2 linked regions of the Homo sapiens genome follow. The protein of the gene in region 1 interacts with the protein of each later gene in a pairwise test. Each region holds a gene or a part of one and is shown on either strand. Other genes may lie near its edges.

Region 1 (14,458 bases):
GGTTTGTAGCTGGGCAAGGTGGGTGGAAGGGCTGTGGTAGCTGTTGAGTGGGGAAGCACCAGACGGGAGGCTGTGAGGGGGAGGCCGCTGTGGGGCATGTGGGGGTGGTGGGGGAGGGGCCAGCGGGATGGGGAGGGGGTCAGTGGAAGGGGGAGAGGCGCACGGGTCCTGCAGACATCCTGGGGTGGAGCCCAGGGGTTTGTGGATGGATTTGATCAAGCAGGAAGGGTGTGGAGTCAGGGAGAACCCCAAGCTGCTGAGTAGCAGAGCCATGGTGGCAGGAGGAATGCCACAGAGGAGCAGGCGGGGCCGGGGTTAGCTGGATGTGGAGAGGCGATGCCTGCCCTGTCCCTGGAGACACCCAGAAAGCTCGTGGGAGAGGCCTGGCCTGCGCCACGCGGGGCCTGTGGGGGGTGGCATTCAGGCGGTGACGGGAAAGTGGGGAAGGCAGAGAGGAGGGAGGCCAAGGAGCAAGTCCCGGCTGCCACAGGTCAGGGCGGATGGATGAGGAGTCAGCAAGGGCCTCCACAAGGGAGTGTCCGGGGTCTTACAGCCAAGTCCAGATGGTGGAGGCCTCTGGACCCAGACCAGAGTGTGGGGGATCCAGCCAGGGGGGCTGGCAGCTTTGCCCTAGAGTGGAGCAGAGAAGTCAGCAGGGCAACCAGAGGGGCTGGGGCCCAGGGTCTGGGGTGGGCACGGGCTTCGAGCCGTGGCGCTCACTGTGCGTGAGCAAGCTGGGGAGCCCGAGAGAGGGGCGCGAGCGGGTGGAGAGACAGCAGGTGGAGGTGAGCACCGCCCTCCAGCCAGCCTTGGATTGCAGGGGTCCCAGGACCTCCCTCTGTGGAGTGGGTTTGCCTCCATGGGACGAGGACACTGGGGCACAGAGAGCCTACTGATTTCCCCAGGGTCACACAGCGTGGCGTTTTGGAGAGGAGTCGGGGAGTTTGGGAACCAGCTGAGTTGGGAGCCAAGGTGGGGAGGTGGGTGACCCTTCCACAGGCCCCACGGTTGAGTGGCCTGGAGGGTACAGTGAGGAGCTTTCCCGGCCAGTCCCAGAGCGGGGAGGCAAGCAGGGCTGGGGCCGCCCACCCGGTCACTTGCACACACAGGGATTCCCGGCAGGTTGAGCGAGTCCCAAGTCAGCTCAGAAAGTGCAACAAGGTGGACCTGGTCTGGGCAGATGTAGATGTAGATCTACGGGAGTCGGCCCCACTCACCCTCGCCTGGCCCAGTGTGCATCACACAACCTGGATGGCAGTGCCACCCTCCCTGGATGGCTGCTGGCTGGCAGCTTGAATGTCACACCAAGGCTGGAGGAAGGCAGCAGAGAAGTTGGCCATCCCTGCCCTTTACCCGCAGGAAGATGAGCCGGAGTCTGGGGGGCCTGGTGGGTGGGGGCAGTAGGTGAGCTCCGCCTGCCCCTCTTGCTGGCCCTGTCGGGGAGGCCCAGCTGTTGCTGACAGCCTCGGCTCAGGTTCCAGTGCAGGACGCCCCCCCACCGGATGCTGCGGAGATGGCCATGCCTTCCTGCCGCCGCCTCTCCAGGGCCCTGGGGCTGCTGGCTGGGGAAACCAGGAGGTGGGGGCCTGGTGTGGGCTGCCCTGCCCAGGGTCGAGAGCACGCCCTTGGGACCCACGAGGTCTGGGCTCTGAGCCCGGCTGTGGCCGCTCTCTGGCCGATGACCCAAGGTGTGTCACAGCCCCGCCCTGAGCCTGGGTCTCTGTGTCTGTGGAGGAGGGATTCTAGGCGGGATGTGAGGCCACCCACGCGGACCACTGTGCATGCTGGGCTGGATACTGGAGACACGTTCTTCCCGGCCTCAGTTTCCCCATTTGTGGCAGCTGAACTGGGCTGATAGGCCTTCGGTGCTGGCTGTGTGGCTTGAGGGCGGCTCAGGAAGGGCCGTGGTTCTTTCCTTTTACAAAAATAAAGTGTGGCGGGTGCCGGTGTGGAAGTGACGTGGCCTGGATGACATTCCCGTCCTGCAGGACCGGAGAGTTCTAGGAAGGGCCCCCCGGGAGTCCCGGCAGGGCCTGGATGGCAGCCTGCTGAGCCTTGGGGTCGTTGCAGGCTCTCTCCCCTGACGGAGGCACCCTCAAGTCAGGCCATGTTCTACCCTGGCCACCTGCCCTCTCCTGGGGGACTCCCAAGACAGGACGTTGGCCGATAGCCTGGGGCAGGGCGAGTCCTGGTGGTTGTGTCCTGGGGGGTGCAGCTGGGGGTGCAGCTGGAGCTCCTGCAGAATCAGGAACTACCCTGGGCAGGGCTGGCCCAGGCCAGCCTGTGGGCCTCAGTAGCCCCATCTGTGAGATGGGTACCTTGTGGGACTTTACTGGGAGCGAGCGAAATGACTGCCTTTGAGGTGGGGGCGAGGGCACGTGCTGTGCCCAGGGCCACATGGCCGAGGCAGAGCCAGGAGTGCTCCCCTGCTGCCCGCTGGCCTACCCAGCCCCTGGTGCCTCCCGGCCCTGGCAGCACCTTGTGAGTCCGAGCCGGCATTCTCATCCCCGGGGTCCCGGCAGGGCCTTCCTTTCCTGGTGCCTGCTCTCGGGGCCCAGCTCACGGGTGAATCCCAAAATAGCTCAGGGAGGAGTGACGGGACAGCTGGGGCTGACCGTCGGCAGCCAGCGGCCGGGAATGCCCGTGACAGTGGGGCTGGCCGGCAGGGCTGCAACCCCTGCCTGGCTGGGGCTGCTCCAGTTCAAAGGCCTGAGGCCGCCCGCCGGCCCTGGGTGTGGCGTGGGTGACTGTGCCTGGCTCCCCTGCCACCCTTTCAGGCACCACAGCTCACTGGGTCTTGCGCCCCTCCTCCTTCCCCCAGGTGCAGCTACGGCTGGCAAGGGAGGTTCTGCGATGAGTGTGTCCCCTACCCCGGCTGCGTGCATGGCAGTTGTGTGGAGCCCTGGCAGTGCAACTGTGAGACCAACTGGGGCGGCCTGCTCTGTGACAAAGGTAGTGGTAGGGGGCGGCAGGCCTAATGCTCTGCCATCGAAGTGTGGGTTGTGGGGGAGCGGGGGGCCGGCTTTTCCCCTGAGCATCCCACCCCTGCCCCCAGACCTGAACTACTGTGGCAGCCACCACCCCTGCACCAACGGAGGCACGTGCATCAACGCCGAGCCTGACCAGTACCGCTGCACCTGCCCTGACGGCTACTCGGGCAGGAACTGTGAGAAGGGTACGTGGGGGGCTGGCCACCCAAATTCTGGCCAGGCAGGGACTGGTTCCCTGGGGAGCCGGTCAGGCCCCATCCCTCTGGCGTCCTGTGTGGTGGGCCCCTGACCCCCAGCTTGGGAACCTGTGGGCTTGGGGAGGAGTGCTTGTGGAAAGCTGGGGGCCTGGCTGCCAGCTCTGCCCCCTCCCCGCGGTTCTACAGCTGAGCACGCCTGCACCTCCAACCCGTGTGCCAACGGGGGCTCTTGCCATGAGGTGCCGTCCGGCTTCGAATGCCACTGCCCATCGGGCTGGAGCGGGCCCACCTGTGCCCTTGGTGAGTGTCTGCACGTGAGTAGGGGACTCCTGCCTAGTATCAGTGGGGGTCTGGGAGTGGGGCAACTCGCTGGGGATGGGGTGCAGTGGTCAAGTCCACACGTGTGGCTGCGGCTGGCTTGGCGAGGACAAATGGCAGGAAGACCCAGGCTTGCAGCGCCACCTGCCCATGGGGACCTTATTCCCACGGCTCACACTGCCAGGGCCCCACCTTTCTCCACCCTCTGCAGACATCGATGAGTGTGCTTCGAACCCGTGTGCGGCCGGTGGCACCTGTGTGGACCAGGTGGACGGCTTTGAGTGCATCTGCCCCGAGCAGTGGGTGGGGGCCACCTGCCAGCTGGGTAAGGGCTCCGAGCGAGTGCATGGGAACGTGGGCCGCGCATGCGGGCTGCGGGGGCTGCTGGGGCTGCGGGGGCTGCTGGGGCTGCTGGGGCTGCTGGGCTGCGGGTGCCAGGTGCCCGTGCTGCAGGGGGCAGGCAGGGCCCGAGCCCCACGGCTCCCACCTTGTCTCTTTCACAGACGCCAATGAGTGTGAAGGGAAGCCATGCCTTAACGCTTTTTCTTGCAAAAACCTGATTGGCGGCTATTACTGTGATTGCATCCCGGGCTGGAAGGGCATCAACTGCCATATCAGTCAGTATGGGGGGTGGGCGCCGGCGGGTGGGCCGAGGCACATGGGACCCCGCCTCTGACCCTGCTCCTCTGCCCCCAGACGTCAACGACTGTCGCGGGCAGTGTCAGCATGGGGGCACCTGCAAGGTGAGGCGGGGCCAGGAGGGTGTGTGGCGTGGGTGCTGCGGGGCCGTCAGGGTGCCTGCGGGACGCTCACCTGGCTGGCCCGCCCAGGACCTGGTGAACGGGTACCAGTGTGTGTGCCCACGGGGCTTCGGAGGCCGGCATTGCGAGCTGGAACGAGACGAGTGTGCCAGCAGCCCCTGCCACAGCGGCGGCCTCTGCGAGGACCTGGCCGACGGCTTCCACTGCCACTGCCCCCAGGGCTTCTCCGGGCCTCTCTGTGAGGTGAGGTCTGCCTGGTCACCCTGCCCCACCTGCTGCTCTGGGAGCTGTAGGGCAGGCCTCGTCCCCTGACCATGGGGCCTGAGTGACCCAGGGGTGCTGCAGGGGAAGTTGTCCCCAAGGCGTCCCAGGCTCAGCTCTCCACTGGGTGCCAGGTGGGCAGGCGGGGCTGTCACAGGTCACCAGGCTTGGCCCCCTGTGGCCATTGCTTGTTGTGATGGGTTTCCTGGTGGCCTGGGCTAGGAGCCCCCGGGCTGCTGGCTGCCCAGGCCTATCTGTCCATCTGTGCACTCCCTCGGGACTGGAGGGCAGGGGGCTCTGGTGGGCAGAGCACATGGGGTAGGGTGGGTGCCTGATGGTGGAGAGGTATACACCTGTCATAGGTGAGTCCTGGGTCGGAGTGGGCATCTCTCTCAGGGCTGATGCTCTCGCCTCCCTCTGACCATCTGTTGGTACTGGACCCCCTCCCCCAACCTCCCCTTCCCCCCTGCCTCCAAAGTAACCTGCCTTCCCCCTTCCCCACCACCCCTACCACCCCCTTCCCCACCTCCCCCTTCCCCACCTCCCCCAACCCTGCCTCCCCCCACCCACCTCACTATCACCCCTCCCCTACCTCCCCCAACCCTGCCTCCCCCCACCCACCTCCCTACCACCCCCTTCCCCACCTCCCCCAACCCTGCCTCCCCCCACCCACCTCCCTACCACCCCCTTCCCCACCTCCCCCAACCCTGCCTCCCCATTACCTGCCTCCCTACCACCCCCTCCCCTTACTTCCCCTTTTTCCCTGCCTCCCCCCACCCACCTCCCTACCACCCTCGGCCGCCCACGATCCTGCCCTGGCCTTGGTGCAGAGGATGGGCCTCCTGTCCAGAGGGCTTCTTGGGGCCCAGGGCAGGGGTCTGACCTCAGGACCTGCAAGCATGGCAGTGGCTGGCCCTGGAAAAGACCCACAGTCTTGGCTCTGAGGGTGGCCAGGCAGTGTGTGAGGGGCTCAGGAGCTGTCCTTCCTGCCAGCAGCAGGGGCCAAGGCCACACTCCTCCCGAGGGACAGTGAGGAAGCTGGGCTGCAGTGGAGGTGGGGGTGGGGGCCCACAGGTATCTGCGTTCAGCTAAGGCCTGGGCAGTCTCAGGTGGGCAGGGGTCTTGGGCTCTGGCTGGCACTGTTAGGCCCAGGGCGGAGGGGCCTGGGGGTCCCCAGGGATCTACCTTCGTATGGACAGAGGCCTGGCCTGTGTTCCCGGCCTGGGCCTGGGCCTAGGCTCTCACAGGCACCCCCCACCCTGCAGGTGGATGTCGACCTTTGTGAGCCAAGCCCCTGCCGGAACGGCGCTCGCTGCTATAACCTGGAGGGTGACTATTACTGCGCCTGCCCTGATGACTTTGGTGGCAAGAACTGCTCCGTGCCCCGCGAGCCGTGCCCTGGCGGGGCCTGCAGAGGTGCTGGGTGCGGCATGGGGTGGTGGGGGAGGTGGTGGGGCAGGGGCGGGCCTGACTCCTGACTGTACTGCCTGCCATAGTGATCGATGGCTGCGGGTCAGACGCGGGGCCTGGGATGCCTGGCACAGCAGCCTCCGGCGTGTGTGGCCCCCATGGACGCTGCGTCAGCCAGCCAGGGGGCAACTTTTCCTGCATCTGTGACAGTGGCTTTACTGGCACCTACTGCCATGAGAGTGAGTGGCCACGAACGGCGGGCTGGTGGTGGGGCTGGGCTGGCCTGAGGCCCTGGCTCACCCCGCTCGCCTCTGCAGACATTGACGACTGCCTGGGCCAGCCCTGCCGCAATGGGGGCACATGCATCGATGAGGTGGACGCCTTCCGCTGCTTCTGCCCCAGCGGCTGGGAGGGCGAGCTCTGCGACACCAGTGAGTGTTCCAGCACCCGCCCACACGGCCTGTGCCTCCACCCCTGTGGGCCCCTTATCACCCTGAGATGGACCGCTGTCTGGGTGCGGCAGGCCCCGTACCCAGAAAGGCCTGGCCAGGGGGTGCTGCCACCATGGGGTGGAGTCCCAGGCTGCCCCCATGCCCGAGGCCAGCTCCCCCGGCCCGACGCTCCTCCCCCGCCCCTCTCTGTCCTCACCTGGCCCAGCTCCAGTGCTTCCTCCCCCGGGAAGCCCTCCCTGAGCGCCGGTGACCCCCCGCCCGCTGACCGGCGTCCTCGCCCCCAGATCCCAACGACTGCCTTCCCGATCCCTGCCACAGCCGCGGCCGCTGCTACGACCTGGTCAATGACTTCTACTGTGCGTGCGACGACGGCTGGAAGGGCAAGACCTGCCACTCACGTGAGTGTCCGCAGGCCCTGGCCGCCTGGGGCTGCCCCCAGGACCCTGGCCCTGGCGGTCTGGGGCCTGCCTGCTGAGCGGCCCATGTGCCAACAGGCGAGTTCCAGTGCGATGCCTACACCTGCAGCAACGGTGGCACCTGCTACGACAGCGGCGACACCTTCCGCTGCGCCTGCCCCCCCGGCTGGAAGGGCAGCACCTGCGCCGTCGGTGAGGAGCCCCCGCTGCCTCTGCGACCGCCGGGCATATGCCCTCCCAGGCACCGCTCCCTCGGGCGCGATGGGCCGAGGGGTCTTTTTTGAGGGCCACACCTGCCACCTGCCCCCTGCCCCCTGCCCCCGGGTCTGTCTGCCCTGTCTGGGTTGGGGGCGCGGTATGGAGACCCAGGGCCAGCCCAGGGCCAGGTGAGACGCTCCCTCCTCCTCCTCTCCTTACAGCCAAGAACAGCAGCTGCCTGCCCAACCCCTGTGTGAATGGTGGCACCTGCGTGGGCAGCGGGGCCTCCTTCTCCTGCATCTGCCGGGACGGCTGGGAGGGTCGTACTTGCACTCACAGTGAGTGTGGGAGGGGTGTGGGCGGGGGCCGCTTTCCTCCACCCAGATGACATCCCTGCCCCCGACTCGCCCCCCAGTCCCTTCTGCCAGCCCCTCCCCCTGCTGCCCCTGCCCCCAGCAAAAGGCACCCTCCTTGATGACCCTCCCCAGCCCCACAGCCTGATCACGCCAAGCCAGCCTGGACAGTGCCTGGCACGCTTGGGGGGTGGGTACTGATCCCCTGCGTTCTCTTCTCCCAAACCAGATACCAACGACTGCAACCCTCTGCCTTGGTGAGTGGCACCCTGGGGGCCACAGCAGGGGTGGGTGGGACTTGGCATACCACGGGGGGCCACCTGATGCCCACCCTCTGCTCTGCAGCTACAATGGTGGCATCTGTGTTGACGGCGTCAACTGGTTCCGCTGCGAGTGTGCACCTGGCTTCGCGGGGCCTGACTGCCGCATCAGTGAGTGGCCAGACAGCCCCAGCCCTGGGAGCCCCTCAGCCCAGCCGCGGTGTCAGGAGTCTGGGGACATCAACGTCCACGTCCCTTGAAGGGCAGTGTGGCCACAACTACTTCCTGCCTCTCTTCTGAGCCTCAGTTTCCCCACATGTCTGTGCCCTGTGGGGTTCCTGCTGTATACCCTGCCAAGTGATTAAGTGGGGAGCCCCAGCCTGGGGGACCAGTCCGGGGCCCAGGGAGCTGTGGGGGTTGGAGCGTGCAGCCTGACGTGGGCTCCTCTGTGGCCGCAGGGCTGTTGTCCCTGGGTGTTGGCCCAGCTGTCTGTCCAGCACCCCTTGGCTGGTCCGACGCAGCAGCTGGGGCTAATCCAGGATGGGACAGGCCCACTGCAGAAGCAGACGGAGGAGGGTGCTGTTGGGCCAGGGTCAGGCTGGGCTCAGGAAGGCCTCAGGCAGGCAGCAGCTTGGGCTCGGGGGCAGGGGCTGCTCCTCATTGTCCTGGGGCTTGCGCCTGTGTGCCACTGGCTCCCCGCTGCCCTAGGCCATGCCGGTCCTGCGGTGGGCGTTGGCCTCACTGCACTGAGCAGCGGTGGCTCTCCCTGCAGACATCGACGAGTGCCAGTCCTCGCCCTGTGCCTACGGGGCCACGTGTGTGGATGAGATCAACGGGTATCGCTGTAGCTGCCCACCCGGCCGAGCCGGCCCCCGGTGCCAGGAAGGTAGGCCCCGTGTGATTGCCCTGGGTTGGGGCGGGTTGGGGGGCATGGGTGACACCCAGCCCCGAGGGCCAGATGCCCACTGCTGACCCTCGAGCCCCTTCTCCCCACAGTGATCGGGTTCGGGAGATCCTGCTGGTCCCGGGGCACTCCGTTCCCACACGGAAGCTCCTGGGTGGAAGACTGCAACAGCTGCCGCTGCCTGGATGGCCGCCGTGACTGCAGCAAGGTGAGGGCAGCCCGTGAGCCGCCCTGCCCTACCCGAGGCTGGTGCACGCTGACCCTGGCCACTCTGTGAGATCAGGAGGCGGGTGCTGGGGTCCGGATGGACTGAGAGCCGTCTGCCCTCAGGGACACCCAGGGAGGCGAGAGCTCAGCCAGGCCCCATGCTTCGATGTGCAGTTGGGAAAACAGGCCTGGTCTGGGTCCTGCCTTGCTCCGCCTGCCCTTTCTGATGTCGAGCTTGGCCTGCCTCCCTGGGAGCCCTGGGTAGGGGGTGGGCTGGGCCCTGGGGCTCACAGACTTGGGCGGTGTCCCTCCTTGGCATGGGGCCCGTGCCTGCCTGTGGGTTCTCATCTGTGTGCCTGCATCTGACCCTCCTGTGCGCCTGCGCCTGACCCTCCTGTGCGTGCCTGCCCAGGTGTGGTGCGGATGGAAGCCTTGTCTGCTGGCCGGCCAGCCCGAGGCCCTGAGCGCCCAGTGCCCACTGGGGCAAAGGTGCCTGGAGAAGGCCCCAGGCCAGTGTCTGCGACCACCCTGTGAGGCCTGGGGGGAGTGCGGCGCAGAAGAGCCACCGAGCACCCCCTGCCTGCCACGCTCCGGCCACCTGGACAATAACTGTGCCCGCCTCACCTTGCATTTCAACCGTGACCACGTGCCCCAGGTGAGGGGCCTGGTGGCATCTGAGCTTGCAGAGGCCACACGCCGGCATCTGCTCGTGGCATGGCGAAAGCCTAGCCCCGCAGGGCAGGGAGGCCCTGGTTGGCTGAGCAGAGTCACTCTTGGTCACAGAGAGTGGCCCTGTGGGGTCAGATGAGAGGGGCATTGGGCCTGGTGCTGGGTGGAGGTGGCAGAGGAGGCTGGGAGAGCAGCCAGCTGGGGGTGCCTGTTTGTCCAGCTGCCCTGAGGGCCTGGACTGACGGCGCCATGGCTGCCTGGCCCCAGCTCTTGGGCTGTAGCTCCGTGGGCAGTTTTGCCCTGGCCTAGGAGCCACCTTTGCCTGCTGTGTGCTTGGAGCTGGGCCCCTGTCTCCCAGGAGGGGCTCAGAACTGGAGGAGACCCACTGTACCCCGCCCTGCCTCTCCTTCCCCCACTGGCCTGCAGGTGGAGCTGGGTCCGCCCTGAGGATGGGCGGGTGGGCACCGTCACTCCTGCCTCCTGGTATAGGGCACAGCCGGGTGGGAAGCTGCCCCCCCAGGCCCTTGGCATCCTTGCTGTGCTCTCCTGGGCGGGCTGTAGGGTGTGTCCCACGTGTACCCACAGCGCCAGTCCAGGGATGTAGGTGTCAGGTTCACGGCCCTGCCCTGCCCACGCACTGCCTGTCTCTGCCCAGGGCACCACGGTGGGCGCCATTTGCTCCGGGATCCGCTCCCTGCCAGCCACAAGGGCTGTGGCACGGGACCGCCTGCTGGTGTTGCTTTGCGACCGGGCGTCCTCGGGGGCCAGTGCTGTGGAGGTGGCCGTGGTGAGTGCCCAGTGGGGAGCAGCACCTGGGTGGGCCCTGGGTCCCGTACTATGCAGGTCCTGGCTATGCTGGACAGAGGCTCTGGCGAGGCTAGTCCTGGTGCGGAAGGACTGCGGGCAGGCCTGTCTCCCTGCGGCCCCTCGCTGTCCATGCCGCAGACCCGTGGAACTGCTCCCTGGGCCTGGCCAGCATGAGGGAGATGCAGGGCTGTGGTGTGGAGCCCGCTTCCCCTGCAGCTGCATCCTCGCCCGGTCCCCTGCTCTGTTTTTGTCTCTGTGTCCCTACGTCACAGGCAGCAGGAGAGTCCGTGGGCTTAGTCTGCCCTGGGAGGCCTGCTTTGGGACTGGCACCTGCCCTGGACCTGGGGGGTGTCAGATGTGAATGGATACCAAGGGGGTCGGGTGAGACTGGGGTGGAGACATGCCCGGAGAGGGGAGGGAATGTTCTGGAACATGGTGGGTGGGTGTGCAGAGCAGTGGGTGTGGCCATGGCACAGTGTGGCTGGTGGAGGCCATGGCCAGGCACAGGAAGGACGTGCAGTGTTTTGGTGCCCTGAGGCCGCAGAGGGGGTGGGGGACATGGATGGGTGCTGCTGGGTGATGGAAGGGCAGTAGGGGCAGGGGAAGATGTAAGAAGTGTGCCAGCACAGGTCAGGGCGCCATCAGGGATGTGGTGGAGGCAGGGGCACAGCCCCGGGTTGCTGTGGCCTCGTGAAGGCACTAGGTTTGTGGTGCCCCTGGGGTGTGGCCCATAGGTGGGGGTGGGGGCTGGGAACTGACAAGAAGGGATGGCCATCACGGAGCAGGTGTCAGCGAATGGGGCCACACACCTCCCCAACTCACTGCCTGGTGGCGAGGTCCCCACCGCAGGACCCCGGGCTCTCCTGTGTGCCCGGACGGGGACACCCTCCACCCCTCCACTTCCCCCCACCCCTCACTGCCTGCTGGTGAGGTCCCCACCGCAGGACCCTGGGCTGTCCCGTGCGCCCGGATGGGGACATCCTCCACCCCTCCCCTTCCCCCCACTGCTCGCTGCCTGGTGGTGAGGTCCCCACACCTCAGGACCCTGGGCTCTCCTGTGTGCCCGGATGGGGACAGCCTCCACCCCTCCACTCCTCCCCCCGCTACTCCCCACTCACTGCCTGGTGGTGAAGTCGCCACTGCAGGACCCCGGGCTCTCGTCTCCCGTGCGCCCACCTTGCTCCAGTGTGGCCAGGGCCTCAGTGTTGGGGGCAGGCTGCTGGGAGCCTGGAGCCCTCGAGCCATCCCCACAATGCCGTTCTTTGCCGCAGTCCTTCAGCCCTGCCAGGGACCTGCCTGACAGCAGCCTGATCCAGGGCGCGGCCCACGCCATCGTGGCCGCCATCACCCAGCGGGGGAACAGCTCACTGCTCCTGGCTGTCACCGAGGTCAAGGTGGAGACGGTTGTTACGGGCGGCTCTTCCACAGGTAAGCGCGGGAGGTGGGCCCCTGGGAAGGCACCAGGCAGGCAACTCAGGCATTGGGCACAGAGCCGGCCGATCCTGCCGATCCTGCCAGCCACCAGGAACACAGAAGTCCCTGGCACCTGCTGCCCCAGCCGCCCAGCCCCACAACCTGACCTTCCCAGCCCCCGTCCTGGGACCCTCCCCACGAGCCAGCAACCGGAGGGTGGGGCCCGGCCGCCTGGCCCGCAGGGCCCTCCCAGGCCTGGGTGTGTGGCTAGTGCCCCGCAGGTGCCCAGGCCTCATTGCCCACCGGCTCTTCTCCCCGGTCCCCAGGTCTGCTGGTGCCTGTGCTGTGTGGTGCCTTCAGCGTGCTGTGGCTGGCGTGCGTGGTCCTGTGCGTGTGGTGGACACGCAAGCGCAGGAAAGAGCGGGAGAGGAGCCGGCTGCCGCGGGAGGAGAGCGCCAACAACCAGTGGGCCCCGCTCAACCCCATCCGCAACCCCATTGAGCGGCCGGGGGGCCACAAGGACGTGCTCTACCAGTGCAAGAACTTCACGCCGCCGCCGCGCAGGGCGGACGAGGCGCTGCCCGGGCCGGCCGGCCACGCGGCCGTCAGGGAGGATGAGGAGGACGAGGATCTGGGCCGCGGTGAGGAGGACTCCCTGGAGGCGGAGAAGTTCCTCTCACACAAATTCACCAAAGATCCTGGCCGCTCGCCGGGGAGGCCGGCCCACTGGGCCTCAGGCCCCAAAGTGGACAACCGCGCGGTCAGGAGCATCAATGAGGCCCGCTACGCCGGCAAGGAGTAGGGGCGGCTGCCAGCTGGGCCGGGACCCAGGGCCCTCGGTGGGAGCCATGCCGTCTGCCGGACCCGGAGGCCGAGGCCATGTGCATAGTTTCTTTATTTTGTGTAAAAAAACCACCAAAAACAAAAACCAAATGTTTATTTTCTACGTTTCTTTAACCTTGTATAAATTATTCAGTAACTGTCAGGCTGAAAACAATGGAGTATTCTCGGATAGTTGCTATTTTTGTAAAGTTTCCGTGCGTGGCACTCGCTGTATGAAAGGAGAGAGCAAAGGGTGTCTGCGTCGTCACCAAATCGTAGCGTTTGTTACCAGAGGTTGTGCACTGTTTACAGAATCTTCCTTTTATTCCTCACTCGGGTTTCTCTGTGGCTCCAGGCCAAAGTGCCGGTGAGACCCATGGCTGTGTTGGTGTGGCCCATGGCTGTTGGTGGGACCCGTGGCTGATGGTGTGGCCTGTGGCTGTCGGTGGGACTCGTGGCTGTCAATGGGACCTGTGGCTGTCGGTGGGACCTACGGTGGTCGGTGGGACCCTGGTTATTGATGTGGCCCTGGCTGCCGGCACGGCCCGTGGCTGTTGACGCACCTGTGGTTGTTAGTGGGGCCTGAGGTCATCGGCGTGGCCCAAGGCTGGCAGGTCAACCTCGCGCTTGCTGGCCAGTCCACCCTGCCTGCCGTCTGTGCTTCCTCCTGCCCAGAACGCCCGCTCCAGCGATCTCTCCACTGTGCTTTCAGAAGTGCCCTTCCTGCTGCGCAGTTCTCCCATCCTGGGACGGCGGCAGTATTGAAGCTCGTGACAAGTGCCTTCACACAGACCCCTCGCAACTGTCCACGCGTGCCGTGGCACCAGGCGCTGCCCACCTGCCGGCCCCGGCCGCCCCTCCTCGTGAAAGTGCATTTTTGTAAATGTGTACATATTAAAGGAAGCACTCTGTATATTTGATTGAATAATGCCACCATTCCGGCCTCCCTTGTTCTTTCGGTGCTGTCCCTTTTGTATTGAGAGTGAGGTTGGGGGAGAGCCACGCCGGCAGAGAGGCTTGGGGCAGTGGGGCGCGTGCTGGGTATTGGCCCACGTGGCTGTGGTGGCTGTAGAGGGCGAGACGGTTCTGTTGAGTCGGGGCCTGCCAGGGCCTCGAATGCGTTGGCATGCCAAGGTGGTGGATGCAGGTTTGGCCAAAACCTTCCTGGGAATGGGGAGGGGGGTGTCTAGGTGCCTGGCACCCGACCCTGACTAAAACAGCTGAAAACAGTTTTATAAAATAGTATAAAATTGCTTACCCACGAATACGTATCAAGGTCTTAAGGAATTAACAGGTCAAAATTTTTATTCATTCATTTATTCCTTTGTTTTGCTTGGTCATTCAGAGGCAAGGTCAGCATTTGATGGAGGCAGGAGAGAAGCAGCCCTTCCACCTGGCCCTGGAGCTGGTTTTGCCCCTCACTGCTTGAGCCAACTGGAACGTGGCATGGTGGCCTCAGGGCTGGGCATGGAAGGCCGACTCCAAGGCTGACTCCGAGCCGCCTGTCAGTGATGTGCAAGTCTTTACCCTGCTGTGAGGGGTAGGAGGTCAACTGAGTCAAGGAGCAAAGCCAAGAACCAGATCTGTACAAAAGAGAAAAAAAAAGTCCTGCTGACAGCCTGGGAGTGAGGCTGCCTTGCACAGGCAGAACAAATGAATAAATGAATGAACGAATAAAAATTTTGACCTGGTAATTCCTTAAGACCCGCTCGTTGCTGCAGAAGTTACTCTGGATGTCTGTTGTTGAGCACTGCTGCTGTGGACTCCAGGAAGCCATGCAAATGAGCTATGGTGTGCACTAGAGGGACAGTCTCCCTCACTCCGGCTGGAGTCCTCCCATCGGCTTCTCCATTGTATTGAGCCAGGTCTGCAGGGACACACAGAGGAGCTGGTAGGAGACCCTGCTTGCCATCAGTTGCTCACAAGCCCAAGGCTTGTGCCCTCAGGGTGGGGGCAAGGGTTAAACCCACCTCCTGCCGTGGCCCCAAGGGGTTGGCCAGGCAGTTCAGGCAGAAGGGCA
Region 2 (14,458 bases), on another chromosome or scaffold:
GGCTGGTGTCTGAGATGGTCTGGGGGAGGGGACAGGCCGGTGGGCTGGGGTCAGCAGCTAGCACCAAGTGGTCCCGGTCCTTCCTGCCCCATTGTGGCAGCCTGGTGGTGGCCTTCGGTGACTGCGGTGTGACCATCCTGGGGCAGGGGCCAGGGGATGCCATGGGGCCTTGGCTCCCCCTGATCAATCAGGGCTCTGGGTGTGGCCAGGCCTCTGAGGGTGGAGCCTGAGGATTCCTCTGTCCCTCAGAGACAGGACTGCTCCTTTTGAGCCCATCCTGGGTTCTGACCAGAAAGATCTGATCCTCACTCTCCAGTCCTGGGGGCCCAGCCACAGTTGGGCAGGCTCAGGCTGGCCAGAGGGAAGCCCTCTCCACATCCAGGGTGCAAACCTGGGAGCCCTGGACTGCCGCACTCATCCCTGCCCCAGCTTGCTCTCCTGGGAGGGTGAGAAGCCTCCGACTGTGGCTGGCTGACCTATGGGCTCAGGACCAGGTGCCCGGCATGGCAGCTTTGGGTCCTCCCGGCTAACGGGGCTGTGCTCGCTGCCCCCACAAGTCTGAGTCCTTCTGGTGAGGCCCAAGCTAGGGAGCTCTGGGTGGGGGTGGGGGATACCCAGGCACTGGAGGCTCTGGGGGCCCACTCTTTTCCCTGGTGCTTCATCCCTGGGTCAAGCCCTGACACACAGGTTTCTCTGCAGCAGGCAGAGGAGGGAAGGAGGGAGATGGGGCAGACGCCCGCCTCCCAGGGTCCAGCCCAGCTGAGCGCTGGTGGCCCTGCTCCAGGTAGGAGCTGCAGGACCAGGGGTTGGTGGTGGTGTCAGGAGAAGAAGCCCCCCAGAAAGAGGTGCAGAGTGGGCCAGGCTCTTGGAGAGCCAGTGTCCTCCGGCGTGGGGGGCCCTGAAGAAAAGGGGGTAGGGGTGAGGATGGGGATGGCCCCGCCCACCAGGGCTTATGGGTGAGGGGCACACACAGGACACCACACACAAGGATTGGGCTCCATGGAGGGGAGAGGGTGCGATTGCCAAAGAAAGGGTGGGGTCCGGGGACGGTGAGAGATGACGGGACTCCCTGGAGGGGGGGTGGGGAGGAAGAGGGGGCCGGAGCCCTGCTGGGCGCTGGGCAGGCGCGGTACATACACTGAGGTTATTCCCACGTGGCCGGCCCCTTCTCCTCTGTCACAGCCCCATGGGATGGTGCACACAGAAAAAACAGAAAGAAGAAAATAAATATAAAAGGCAAGAGGGAGAGTGAGGAGGTGGTGCATGGAGAAGAAGCCAAGGAGGGGAGTGGCACTGGCATCAAGAGAAATCGGAGGGAGAAGGCAGGGAGGAAAAGAAAAGTTAAAGTCCTGGCGGGTGGGTGTCCCAGGCCCCCGGGGCTGGGCGTCCTCTATTCCCATGGGTACAGAGGAGACAGACAGGAGATGCAGACAGACAAATGGCAGAGGCATGGGACCGAAAGACAGGACGGCGCAGCCTCGAGCCCCTGGCCCTGGGCTCTGCCTCATGCGATGCACACCCCAACCCCTGGCTCCGGCCGATGCTCAAAGCTTCCATGTGGTGGCCGTCAGCTGGGCTTGTCCCAACCCTCTCCTGGGGCCCAGCAGCTCGGTCCTGAGGGAGCAGCAGCATGCACGCTGGGTGCTCCCCAACCCACGTTCCCAGCAGCCAGAGGCCAGGCCCTCAGGTGACCCTGGTCCAGCCAGGCACAGCACAGCCTCCTGCCCCGTGCAGACGCCACACACGGCACACGGAAAGCTCGCCACAGCCACACATGCCACGCACCCGGGCCAGGCTCTCACAGCCATGCCCTGTTCTCCTCCAGAGGCGGGCTGCGTGCATGGGCCCCCGCTGTTCAGGCCGGGTGGGCAGCCAGCTATGCCTCTGGGCCCTCTGTCCCATGAGTCCAAGGCAACGGGATCACCTGCAGGTGGGCCTGGCAGCTGGGTGAAGCGGCCACACACAGACACACATCAAGCACACACCCCTGTGCCCCCCAATGACTCCCACAGAGACCAGACAGAAAATACGAGCCCAGCTGCCCCCAGACCCACCCCAGACTCTGCTACTGTATCCTAGGACCTGCCAAGTTCCCATATGCAGACACGTGTGCACGTACATGTGTGCATGTGTGAGTACATGTGCAGTGTGTATATGCCCACGTGCACACACGTGTGTGTATGCAAGCATCTGAGTAGGCGCACAGCTGCACATGTGTGTGCATGTATGTTGAGCATGTGTGTGTGTGTTTGTGTAGGGGTGATCTTCGTGGCAGGTCTCAGCTGGCCCTGTTGAACCCTGCTGCACCCACAAATCTTCCACAACCTCCCCTGTCTGCAGCCTCCAACCAGGGCAGCCAGAGACCATTTTGCAGTGGCCACTGCCCTCTGCCCCAGGGGGAGCACTTTCCTCTCTGTCCTCTGTGAGGGAGGAGGGTCTGCAGGTGCTCCAGGTGTGACCAGGTGGTGGGTGGGGCCTGCAGACTGCTTCAGAGACTGAAGGAGTCCCTACCCAGGCCTGAGTCCGGCAGGGAGGGGATGCACTGGGCTGCTTGTGGGGGGGCCTGGCCCTACCCAGTGCAGAGTGAGGGGTCCAGCCCCAGGGCAGTGGTGAAAGCCCTCACCTGGTTCTCTGCAGGGAGGCGGGGCATGGAGGCAGCCCGGCCCTGGCCTTCCATGGGGAGGTAGTGCTCGCTGTCGGAGTAGCCATCTCTGCCCATCTCTCGCATCTCCACGGACTGCGGAGCAGATGGCAAAGCCAGATGAGCTCTGGGGCCTGACCTCCAGATCCCTGGTGTCTGCAGAGGGAGGGAGCTGCAGGTGTGTGTGTGTGGGGGGCCCAGATCCCTTCCACCTGAACCACCCGGGCCCTGGGAGCCATTGGGGAGTTGGGGGACAGAGGCACCTGAGAGTTAGGCTGGCTGTTGGGCATGTCGGTAGGGGGGCCTTGTTCCGGACTCCATGTGCCCGTCTTCTGGAACATCTCCTGGGCACGCTGGGTCACCCAGGACGGGCTCTCCTTGAGGCCGCTTTCGTGAGCCATCCTGCATGGGGGACAGAGGCCGGGGTAGCAGTGGGCGCTTGGGCAGCTTCCAGAACGTGGGGACCACGGCACCCCCACACTCCACCTCCCTGGCAGGGGTGACACTCACAGGGCTCCTCCTGGGTCCAGCTGGGTGGAGGGGAGGGCGTTCTGGCCAGGTCCCCCTTCCTGCGTTGGGGACGGGGGCTCCATGCGCTGGAACATGAGGGGTGTCCGGTCCTGGGGAATGGGGCAGAGAGCAGTGTGTGGACAAGGGTGGGGTGGTGGGACGGTGGTACCCAGAAGGCATTGCGACATCCCCAGTATACACACACACACACACACACACTCTCTCAGGTCTCATCCATCTAGACCCTTCCAATTCCACGCAGAACTGGACCACTTCTCACTCCTCCACCCAAGTCATAGCCCCAGCCTGGTCCCACGTCCTCATCTCTCACTGCAGGCACCTTCTCCCAGGTCTCCCGCTCCTACCTTCAACCCCACTGTTCCACAAGAGCCACCAGAGGGCGCCCATGAGCACTTGAGTCAGGTCCTATCCCTCCTTTGCTTAGAACCCTCCATGGCTCCCACTTGCTTGGGGAAAAAGCCAGAGTCCTTCCTGCAGCTCCCATGGCCCTGAAGGATCTGCCCTGTCACCTCCTTGCCCTTGTCTCCTCCCTGCTCTTTTCCACCACACTGGCCTCTTTGCTGTTACCCAAACAACCCAGGCACGGTCCAGCCTCAGAGCCTTTGCACTGGCTGTTTCCTCTGCCTGGAACACCCTTCCAGGTATTGCTTAGCTCACTCCCTCTCCCCTTTTCCTTCAAGCCTTTGCTCACATGTCACTTTCTCAGGGAGGCTCCCCAACTACCCATTTCCCACCGCATCCCCTCCTCCCCTGGATACTCCTATCTTCTGGATTCTTCTCCACTTTCCCCCACGACACTTTCTTTCTCTTTGCTGGATGTTGCACGATTCAGTCATTTGCTACCATTGGCATTTCCCCACTTGGAATGTCTGCTCCCTGAGGGCAGGGATTCTGGCCTATTTTCCCCATGGGTGCATCCCCGAGGACTGAGAACAGCGCCCTGCACACAGTAATACTCAATAAGTGTTGGTGGAGCAGCTGAATGAAGAATGAATCCACATGATGTGTCCTTGGCAAGAACTTTTTTTTTTTTTTTTTTTTTTTTTTTTGAGATAGAGTCCTGCTCTTATCACCCGGGCTGGAGTGCAGTGGCTTGATCTTGGCTTGCTGCAACCTCCACCTCCCAGGTTCAAGTGATTCTCCTGCCTCAGCCTCCCAAGTAGCTGGGACCACAGGTGCATGGCGCCACATGCAGCTAATTTTATTTTTTTTTTGTAGAGATATGGGTCTTTCTATGTTGCCCAGACTGGTCTCCCACTCCTGGCCTCAAGTGATCCTCCCATCTTGGCCTCCTAAATAGCTGGGACTACAGGTGTGCACCACCATGCCTGGCTAATGTTTTATTTTGTAGAGATGGAGTCTCACTGTGTTGCCCAGGGTGGTCTCATCCTGGTCTCAAACGATCCCTCTGCCCTGGCCTCTCAAAGCACTGAGATTGCAGGTGTGAGCTGCTGTGCACAGCCCCTACTTTTCAGGGACCTGCCCTGGGGCTCAGCCACCCTCATATTCCAGTTGGTTCCCGTGGTGACATGCAAGCCACTGTCCCCAGCCCAGATGTCCCCAGAGCGGCGAACAGCGCACCTGCTCCTCGCGCATGGCCTGCAGCTTCTTGGCCTTGCTCTGCCGGTAGTACTCCATGATCATCATGGCTGCGTAGATCTTCCCCACGGTGAGGTCCGTGGCTGGGGGCACACACACGGTGAGCTCACCAAGGGCAGGCCTCTTTGGGGCCCTTGTCCTGGGTCCCTGTGTATACCAGCCCAGGCCAACACTCTCCCCAGGCCTCCCCTTTCCCTCCCCCTCCATCTGTCCTGGTGGATTGGATCCCAGGGCTGGGCTCAGCTCTTACACTTGTGAGGTGTGACCAGCAGGTCTAGCGTCTTCTGGGACAGATTGGGCCAAATCGCCATCATCTCCTTCCGCAGCTCAGCGTCCATCTGCTGTTTGTCGGCTCCTCCTGCAATGGGGGTGTAGACAGACCCTGACTGCCTGCCTGGGTGTCAGCTGGACTCTGGGTCAGCTGCAAAGCCATAGGCTCCCGAGAACGAGACCCCAATCTTTCTGGTCCCCATGGGGTCTCCAGTTCCCCAACGGCCTGGCCCAGAGGAGGCCCTGGGCAGTGCTGCTGGAATGACCTTGTGGGCTCTGGTTTTCGGTGGGGCCAGGACCATGGAGCAGCTGTGCAGGAGACAGCCCGGCATGGAGAACAGCTGGGCGACCTGGGTCCCAATCTTGTCTCCCAGTTATCGGCTGCATGACTTAGGTTACTCTACCACTTAGTAACTCAGTTTCTCCATCTGTGAAATGGAGATGATAGCAAGAGTACTTGCCTCACCTGGTTGTTGTGTGTGTGTGTGTGTGTTTTTTTTTTTTTTTTAGACAGAGTCTTGCTCTGTTGCCCAGGCTGGAGTGCAGTGGCACGAGCTTGGCTCACTGCAACCTCCGACTCCTGGGTTCAAGCAATTCTCCTGTCTCAGCTTCCCGAGTAGCTGGGATTACAGACATGCACCACCATGCCTGGCTAATTTTTTGTATTTTTAGTAGAGACGGAGTTTCACCATGTTGGTCAAGCTGGTCTCGAACTCCTAACCTCGGGTGATCCACACGCCTCGGCCTCCCAAAGTGCTGGGATTACAGGCGTAAGCCACCGCGCCTGGCTGGTTGTTTTTTTTTTGTTTTTTTTTTGAGATGGAGTTTCACTCTTGTTGCCCAGGCTGGAGTGCAATGGTGCAATCTCAGCTCACTGCAACCTCTGCCTCCTGGGTTCAAGCGATTCTCCTGCCTCAGCCTCCCGAGTAGCTGGGATTACAGGTGTGCACCACCACGCCCAACTAATTTTGTATTTTTAGTAGAGACGGGGTTTCACCATGTTGGCCAGGCTGGTCTCAAACTCCTGACCTCAGGTGATCCACCCTCCTCAGCCTCCCAAAGTGCTGGCGATTACATGCGTGAGCCACCGCGTCTGGCCTGTTTTTTTTTTTTTTTTGACAGAGTCTCTCTCTGTTCCCAGGCTGAAGTGCAGTCATGTGATCTCGACTCACTGTTACCTCCGCCTCCCAGGTTCAAGAGATTCTCCCGCTTCAGCTTCCTGAGTAGCTGGGACTACAGGCACGCACCACCATGCCTGGCTATCACCTGGTTGTTTGATGATCAAAGTAACGTGCGTGCAGCCTTGGGACAGTGTCTGCCATAGGATTATTACTGCAGTGACCCATCTGTTCAAGGCTGGGACGCCCTGGAGCATCCCCAACAGAGGAAGTTTTGGTTTTGGTTTTATTTTGATTTTTGAGACAGGGTTTTGCTCTGTCGCCCAGGCTAGAGTGCCGTGGCACAAACATAGCTCACTGCAGTCTCGACCTCCTGGGCTCAAGATCCTCCCACCTCAGCCTCCCAAAGTGCTGGAATTACAGATGAAAGCCACTGTGCGTGGCTCAGAGGAGGTCTTTTCCCCTTTCCCAAGTCTCCACTGCCACGGACATGCCCTTGGCCTGCAGCCAGTCCCTCGTCCCTCACCCCAGTCATGGGGTGAGTCATTAAAGCTCTCTGACGGTGTTTCCTGGCCCTCCTACCTGAGTACATGGGGGGGTTCCTCCTGTGGTTGGCAGGGCCATGTGATGAGTCCTTGCTAATGGGGTGTGCACCATGTAATGTGCCACTTTGGGGCCAGAGCATTTATTATTATTTTTATTATTGTTATTATTTTTGAGATGGAGTCTCGCTCTGTCACTCAGGCTGGAGTGCAATGGCATGATCTCGGCTCACTGCAACCTCCACCTTCAGAGTTCAAGCGATTCTCCTACCTCAGCCTCCTGAGTAGCTGGGATTACAGACATCTGCCTGGCTATTTTTATATTTTTGTAGAGACAGGGTTTCACCATGTTGGCCAGGCTGGTCTCGAACTCCTGACCTCAGGTGATCTGCCTGCCTCGGCCTCCCAAAGTGCTGGGATTACAGGCATGAGCCACTGTGCCTGGCCTATTATTTTTTTTAAAAATTTATCTATCTATCTATCTATCTATCTATCTATCTATCTATCTATCTATCTATCATCTATCTATCGATCGACAGGGACTTACTCTGTTGCCCAGGCTGTGGCACAATCTTTGTTCACCGAAGCCTTGAGCTCCTGGGCTCAAGCAATCCACATTCTGACAGTCAGAATGTCACTGTGGGCTGCTATTTGGATATGCTAACTGGGTTTACGTTTAATATGCTAATTGGTTCAGGCAGGTAGTTGGCTCTGCCCTCAATGCCTGGGGTGGGGGGCTTGAAAGAGGATAGGGTCCAGCCTGGTCAACATGGTGAAACCAGTCTCTAGTAAAAATGCAAAAATTAGCTGGGCGTGGTGGCGTGCGCCTGTAATCCCAACTACTCGGGAGGCTGAGGCATGAGAATCGCTTGAACCTGGGAGGTGGAGGCTGCAGTGGTGAGTTGAGACTGCGCCACTGCACTCCAGCCTGGGCGACAGAACGAGACTCCGTCTCAAAACAATACAAAACAAACAAAACCAAAACCAAAATAGAGATTCTTCTGGGCAGAGAGAACAGAGGGGTGGGTGGGAGAGAGAAACAGATGGACAGGGAAGAGAGAGAGAGAGACAGAGACAGAGAGAATGAGATGGACTTGCCCCCTTTCTCCCAGTCTCCAGCAATGAATGGTGACACCATTTTTGAGAATCTGAAGAATGAGGTTAATCTGTACCCCCTTTGCAGCCCCTTAGCCTGCTGGAAAGGAAGCTCAGTGTGCTTAGAAAGTGAGCTGAACTATGAAAAGAAAGCGCGTTATGTTCTCCTGAGACCCGCATCTGCTCAAAGGGCTGCCACTGTTATCACTCTTCCATTGTTGTCCCCACACCCTCTTGACCTTCCGTAACCCCGAGAGCCTGGCTCAGCTGTGGAACTCCAGGATGAGGCCTGGCACCCACTGAGGACAAGAGGTGGAGGGGCTCCTGGCTGAGAAATCTGGGGGATCATTGTCTTCAGGGAACTGAGTGGCATCTGGGGTACAAGTAACAACTGTGACAGCCAAATTCAGAGACATCTCCAGGAGTCTTTGAAACCCTCAGGAAGGGAATCCAGTAGGTGTCATAGAAGCTGGGGTGCTAAGCAGTAAGGACTAGCTCAGTAGGCTAGTGTTGTCCAAACCCTGCACATTCCGATGAAAGGACTGGCCCATTGACTTGCTCCTGGGAGGTGATCTCTAAGCCTTTGAAATGTCCTGCCTGAAGAGTGTCTTTATTTAGCAGGGGGCCTTGGGCCACACTGTATAGTTCATTCTTTTTTTTTTTTTTTTTTTTTTTTAAAAAAAAGAGATAGGGTCTCACTATGTTGCCTAGGCTGGTCTCGAACTCCTGGCCTCAAACGATCCTCCAGCCTCAGCCTCCCAAAGTGCTGGGATTATAGGCATGAGTCACTGTACCCGGCCAATACAGTTCATTCTATTTATTTATTTATTTTGAGATGGTGTTTTTGCTCTATTGCCCAGGCTGGAGTGCAATGGTGCGATCTTGGCTCACTGCAACCTCGGCCTCCTAGTTTCAAGTGATTCTCCTGCCTCAGCTTCCCCAGTAGCTGGGATTACAGCCGCCCGCCGCCACGCCTGGATAATTTTCCATACAGTTCATTCTAACAATGCGATTTATCGTTGGGGTCTTGGGCCACGTGGTATCAGTTTGACCTCTGGAGGGACTGGAGACTGAGTAACTACGTCAGCCCTGCCTATATGACAAACCCTCAATAAAAACCCTGGGGCACCAAGGCTCAGGTGAGCTTCCCTGGTTGGCAGTACACGGTGCGTGTTGTCACACACTGCAGGGAGAATTAAGCGTTGTCTGTGCAACTCCACTGGAGGCAGACAACTGGAAGCTCGCACCTGGTGTCTCCTGGACCCTTCCCCAGATGCCCTTCCTTTGCGCATTTTATGTTTTTGGAATTTGTTTGTTTGTTTGAGACAGAGTCTTGCTCTGTTGCCCAGGCTGGAGTGCAGTGGCGTGATCTTGGCTTAATGTAGCTCTATCTCCTGGGTTGAAAGGATTCTTGTGCCTCAGCCTCTGGAGTAGCTGGGACTACAGGTGTATGCCACCACACCTGGCTAATTTTCTTTTTGGACAGAGTTTTGATCTTGTCACACAGGCTGGAGTGCAATGGCACAGTCTCAGCTCACTGCAACCTCTGCCTCCCAGGGTCAAGCGATTCTCCTGCCTCAGCCTCCTGAGTAGTTGGGATTACAGGGGTCTGGCACCATGCCTAATTTTTGTATTTTTGGTAGAGACGGGGTTTCGCCATGTTGGCCAGGCTGGTCTCAAACTTGTGACCTCAAGTGATCTGCCCGCCTTGCCCTCCCAAAGTGCCAGGATTACAGGCGTAAGCCACCATGCCAGGCCCTTTGCAGATTTTTTTTTTTTTTTTTTTTCTAATAGAGTCTCACTCTGTCCAGCCTGGAGTGAAGTGGCGGGATCTCGGCTCACTGCAACCTCTGCCTCCTGGGCTCAAGTGATTCTCCTACCTTAGCCTTCCAAGTAGCTGGGATTACTGGCGCCAGCCACCACGCCTGGCTAATTTTTGTATTTTTAGTAGAGACAGGGTTTCACCATGTTGGTCAGGCTGGTCTTGAACTCGTGACCTCAAGTGATCTGCCTACCTCGCCCTCCCAAAGTGCTGGGATTACAGGCGTGAGCCACCGTGCCCGGCCCTTTGCAGATTTTAATCTATATTCTTTCACTGTAATAAACTGTGAGTATAAAAACTTTTCTCAGTTCTGAGTTCTTCCAGGGAATCACTGAACCTGTGGGTGGTTTTGGGACCCCTGAACACAGATTCTCAGAGTGCCACAGAAGCTGAGTTACGATGGCATTACATACAAAGAGTGGGGGTGTTGTTAGACCCGTTGTACAAACGAAGGAACTGTGGTAGGCAGAATTCAAAAGCTGCCCTTCTGCCAAGATTCTGTTTATTCAAACACTAATCTAGGGACCATTGCCCAGGCTATGAAGGGACTTTGCAGATATAATTAAAATACCGGAGGCCCGGTGCGGTGGCTCACGCCTGTAATCCCAGCACTTTGGGAGGCCGAGGTGGGCAGATCACGAGGTTGGGAGATCGAGACCATCCTGCTATCATGGTGAAACCCCGTTTCTACTAAAAATACAAAAAATTATCCGGGCGTGGTGGCACGCATCTGTAGTCCCACCTACTTGGGAGGCTGAGGCAGAATCACTTGAACCCGGGAGATGGAGGTTGCAGTGAGCCGAGATTGCGCCACTGCACTCCAGCCTGGGTGACAGAACAAGACTCCGTTTCAAAAAAAAAAAAAAAAAGAAAGAAAATGCTGGGCATGGTGGCTCACTCCTGTAATCCCAGCACTTTGGGAGGCTGAGGCGGGTGGATCACCTGAGGTCAGGAGTTCAAAACCAGCCTGGCCAACCTTGTGAAACCCCATCTCTACTAAAAATACAAAAAAATTTAGCTGGGCGTGGTGGTGGGCACCTGTAATCTCAGCTACTCAGGAGGCTGAGGCAGGAGAATTGCTTGAACCTGGGAGGCGGAGATTGCAGTGAACTGAGATCACACTATTATACTCCAGCCTTGGCAACAAGAGTGAAATTCTGTCTCAAGAAAAAAAAAAAATATCAAGTCAGCTGACCTCAAAATACAGAGATGATCAGGGTAGGCCTGCCCCAATCAGGTGAGCCCTTGAAAAGCACAGTATTGTCTCTGCTGGGTGGCAGATGGGGAAGTCAGAGAGAATGAGAGCACATGGAGGATTACATGCACTTCCAGGAGCAAAAAGCTAAAAAGCCAGTGATAAAACAAGACCTCAGTCCTACAGCCACAAGGACTTCAATTCTGCCAACACCTGAATGAACCTGGAAGTAGATTCTCCCCCAGATCCTCCAGAGAGGAGCCCAGCTTGGCTGACACCTTGATTTCAGCCTCGTGAGACCCTCAGCAGACAGCCCAGTCCAGCTTTTTGGACTTCTGACCTACAGGACTGTGAGCTGACAAATAGGTGTGTCTTAAGCTGCTATGTCTGTGGTCATCATATAGCTCACTGCAGCCTTGACATCCCAGTCCCCAGTGATCCTCCCACTCCAGCCTCCCAAGTAGTTGGGACTACAGGTGCACATCACCACACCTGGCTAATTTTAAAATTTTCTGTAGAGATGGGGTCTCTCTGTGTTGGCCAGGCTGATCTTGAACTCCTGGCCTCAAGTGATCCTCCTGCCTTGGCTTCCCAAAGTGCTGGGATTACAGGTGTGAGCCACTGCTCCCAACTTCCTTGTGCTCTCTTTACCTTCACTTTGTTCCTGGCATTAACAATATCTGTCCTCCACCCCTCCAGTCCCCCACCTTCCCTGCCACTTCCTCCTTGAGTCTTGCCACGTGGCCTTGGCTCTTCCTCCCTTCTTTCCCTCAAGACCCTGGAAGGCACATATGTCTCGAGGCTCAGTCTTCCCTCCTCCTGACTTACTAGTGGTTTCAGCTGGGCTCAGCACCTTCCCATGTGTGGGACTATCCACCTGCTCCTCTCCCACCCACTCCTTTTTTCTGGTCCCATTTGTTTTTTCTTTTCTTTCTTTCTTTCTTTTTTTTTTTTTTTTTGAGACAGAGTCTTGCTGTGTCCCCCAGGCTGGAGTGCAATGGTTTGATCTCGGCTCACTGCAACCTCTGCCTCCCAGGTTCAAGTAATTCTTGTGCTCAGCTTCCCAAGTTGTTGGGATTATAGGTGTGCACCACCATGCCTGGCTAATTTTTGTATTTTTAGTGGAGATGGGGTTTCGCCATGTTGGCCAGGCTGGTCTCAAATTCCTGGCCTCAAGTGATCCACCTTCCTCAGCCTCCCAAAGTGCTGGGATTACAGGCGTGAGCCTCAGGTCCCCGTTTCTTCTGGCAATTGTGCGCCTGTCTCTCTGCCCTGCTGTCCTTAATCAGCTGCCAAATCACATCACATCCCCTTTCGGGCCTCCGAAATGCACTCCAGACAGGGGACCCCTGACCCCTCCGCCAAAGCTGCACTGGTCAAAGTGACCATGATGACCAGTCACTTGTGATCCTTGTCATCCTTGGTCTCTGGGCAGTGCCTGACACGGTTGGTCCCCTTCCTCCTGAAGCCGCCCTTTTAAACATAGAAGCTGCCTCCAGGAGCCCACACTGCCCTGGTCTCTGCCCGCCTCCCTGGCCTCCTCTTCTTCTTTCCCCCTAATGATGGAGAGTGAGCCCTGAGCTAGGTCTTTGGGGGAATTTCTCGGTATTTTTTATTTTTATTTTTATTTTTGAGATGGAGTCTTGCTCTGTCGCCCAGGCTAAAGTGCAGTGATGTGATCTCGGCTCACTGCAATCTCTGCCTCCCGGGTTCAAGTGATTCTTCTGCCTCAGCCTCCCTAGTAACTGGGATTACAGGTACCCGCCACCACACCTGGCTAATTTTTGTATTTTTAGTAGAGACAGGGTTTTGCCATGTTGACCAGGCTGGTCTTGAACTCCTGACCTCAAGTGATCCACCCGCTTCAGCCTCCCAAAGTGCTGGGATTACAGGCACACGCCACGACACCCGGCTAATTTTTGTATTTTTAGTAGAGACAGGGTTTTGCCACGTTGGCCAGGCTGATCTCGAACTCCTGACCTCAAATGATCCACCCACCTCGGCCTCCCAGCGTGCTCAGATTACAGGCGTGAACCACTGTGCCTGGCCTCAACAAAATGCTGAGATTACAGGTGTGAGCCACCATGTCCAGCCTTCTCGGCTTTTTTTTTTTTTTTTTTTCAGATGAAGTCTCACTCTGTCACCCAGGCTGGAGTGCAGTGGCACAAGCTCGGCTCGCTGCAACCTCTGCCTCTCGGGTTCAAGCAATTCTCCTGCCTCAGCCTTCTGAGTAGCAGGGACTACAGGTGCGTGCCACCACACCCAGCTAATTTTTTGTATTTTTAGTAGAGAAGGGGTTTCACCGTGTTACCCAGGATGGTCTCGATTTCTTGACCTCATGATCTGCCCGCCTCGGCCTCCCAAAGTGCTGCTATTACAGGCGTGAGCCAGCGTGCCCGGCCTCAGCTTTTTTTTTTTTTGAGACAGCGTCTTGCTCTGTCATCCAGGCTGGAGTTCAGTGGCGCGATCTTGGCTCACTGCAACCTCTGTCTCCCAGGTTCAAGTGATTCTCCTGCCTCAGCCTCCGGAGTAGCTGGGGTTACAGGCGCCCACCATGACACCCGGCTACTTTTTGTATTTTTGGTAGAGATGGGGTTTCACCATGTTGGCCAGGCTGGTCTTGAACTCCTGACCTCGTGATCCACCCACCTTGGCCTCCCAAAGTGCTGGGATTACAGGCGTAAGCCACTGCGCCCAGCCCCTTCTCAGCTTTAAAAAAAATGTTTTTTTCTTTTTCTTTCTGTTGTTTTGAGCTAGGATCTCGTTCTGTCGCCCAGGCTGGAGTGCAGTGGTGCGATCATGACTCACTGCAGCCTCAAACTCCTGGCTTCAAGCAATACTCTCATCTCTGCCTCCTGAGTAGCTGGGACCACAGGCATATGCCACCATGTCCAGTTAATTTAATTTAATTTAATTTTTGAGACAGAGTCTTGCTCTGTCACCCAGGCTGTAGTGCAGTGGCGTGATCTCGGCTCACTGCAACCTCCGCCTCCCAGGTTCAAGCGATTCTTCTGCCTCATCCTCCCTAGTAGCTGGGACTACAGTACCCACCACCACGTCTGGCTAAATTTTGTATTTTTAGTAGAGACGGGGGTTTCACCACATTGGCCAGGCTGGTCATCCTGACCTCAAGTAATCCACCCACCTTGGCCTCCCAAAGTGCTGAGATTACAGGCGTGAGCCACCACGTCGAGCCTACCCCTAGATCTAAGCTGCCGCCCTGTCTCCACCCAGATGATATCAGCAGCCCCCACACTGGCCTCCTTTCGGTCTCCCATCCCCTCAGTGGCCGGAGGGAACCTGTTCAAATGTGAGTTGGGTCAGGTTCCTCCTCTGCTCTGAACCTGCGTGGCGTGCCCTCACTCAGAAGGTGAGTCAGCTCAATGCCCCGGGTGTCCTGTGTTCACCCCTCTGTCAGGGCCTTTGCCAGTCCTTCTGCCTGGAGCACCTTCCCCCCAGGGATCCATGAGACACTGCCTTACCTCCTCAGTGGCGGCCTCCCCATCCATCTAAAGTGTAAGCTGCTGGGTCCTCCCCTGCTTGGACGGGTCTCTGGCACATTGAAGGAGTGCACTAAATATCTGCCAAATGGGCCGGGTGTGGTGGCTCATGCCTGTAATACCAGCATTTTGGGAGACCAAGGTG

What was found.
Region 2: the proteins of JAG2 (region 1) and CACNA1A interact in a two-hybrid assay, tested with the Homo sapiens proteins (one study listed by BioGRID and IntAct).

What each region holds. Positions count from the first base shown.
Region 1 is NC_000014.9:105,140,655-105,155,112, reverse strand, and holds the end of JAG2 (protein jagged-2 isoform a precursor), read left to right. Parts: intron 1-2,821; coding exon 2,822-2,952; intron 2,953-3,055; coding exon 3,056-3,175; intron 3,176-3,373; coding exon 3,374-3,487; intron 3,488-3,716; coding exon 3,717-3,830; intron 3,831-4,008; coding exon 4,009-4,122; intron 4,123-4,201; coding exon 4,202-4,248; exon of another isoform or gene 4,249-4,335; coding exon 4,336-4,509; intron 4,510-5,792; coding exon 5,793-5,943; intron 5,944-6,023; coding exon 6,024-6,176; intron 6,177-6,254; coding exon 6,255-6,368; intron 6,369-6,673; coding exon 6,674-6,787; intron 6,788-6,883; coding exon 6,884-6,997; intron 6,998-7,224; coding exon 7,225-7,341; intron 7,342-7,585; coding exon 7,586-7,613; intron 7,614-7,701; coding exon 7,702-7,787; intron 7,788-8,388; coding exon 8,389-8,502; intron 8,503-8,612; coding exon 8,613-8,728; intron 8,729-9,139; coding exon 9,140-9,382; intron 9,383-10,051; coding exon 10,052-10,183; intron 10,184-11,474; coding exon 11,475-11,631; and 4 more. UniProt on the Homo sapiens protein: Putative Notch ligand involved in the mediation of Notch signaling. Involved in limb development.
Region 2 is NC_000019.10:13,209,480-13,223,937, forward strand, and holds part of CACNA1A (voltage-dependent P/Q-type calcium channel subunit alpha-1A), read right to left. Parts: intron 5,130-14,458; coding exon 5,022-5,129; intron 4,855-5,021; coding exon 4,754-4,854; intron 3,262-4,753; coding exon 3,152-3,261; intron 3,044-3,151; coding exon 2,905-3,043; intron 2,738-2,904; coding exon 2,624-2,737; intron 1,174-2,623; coding exon 1,138-1,173; intron 20-1,137; coding exon 1-19.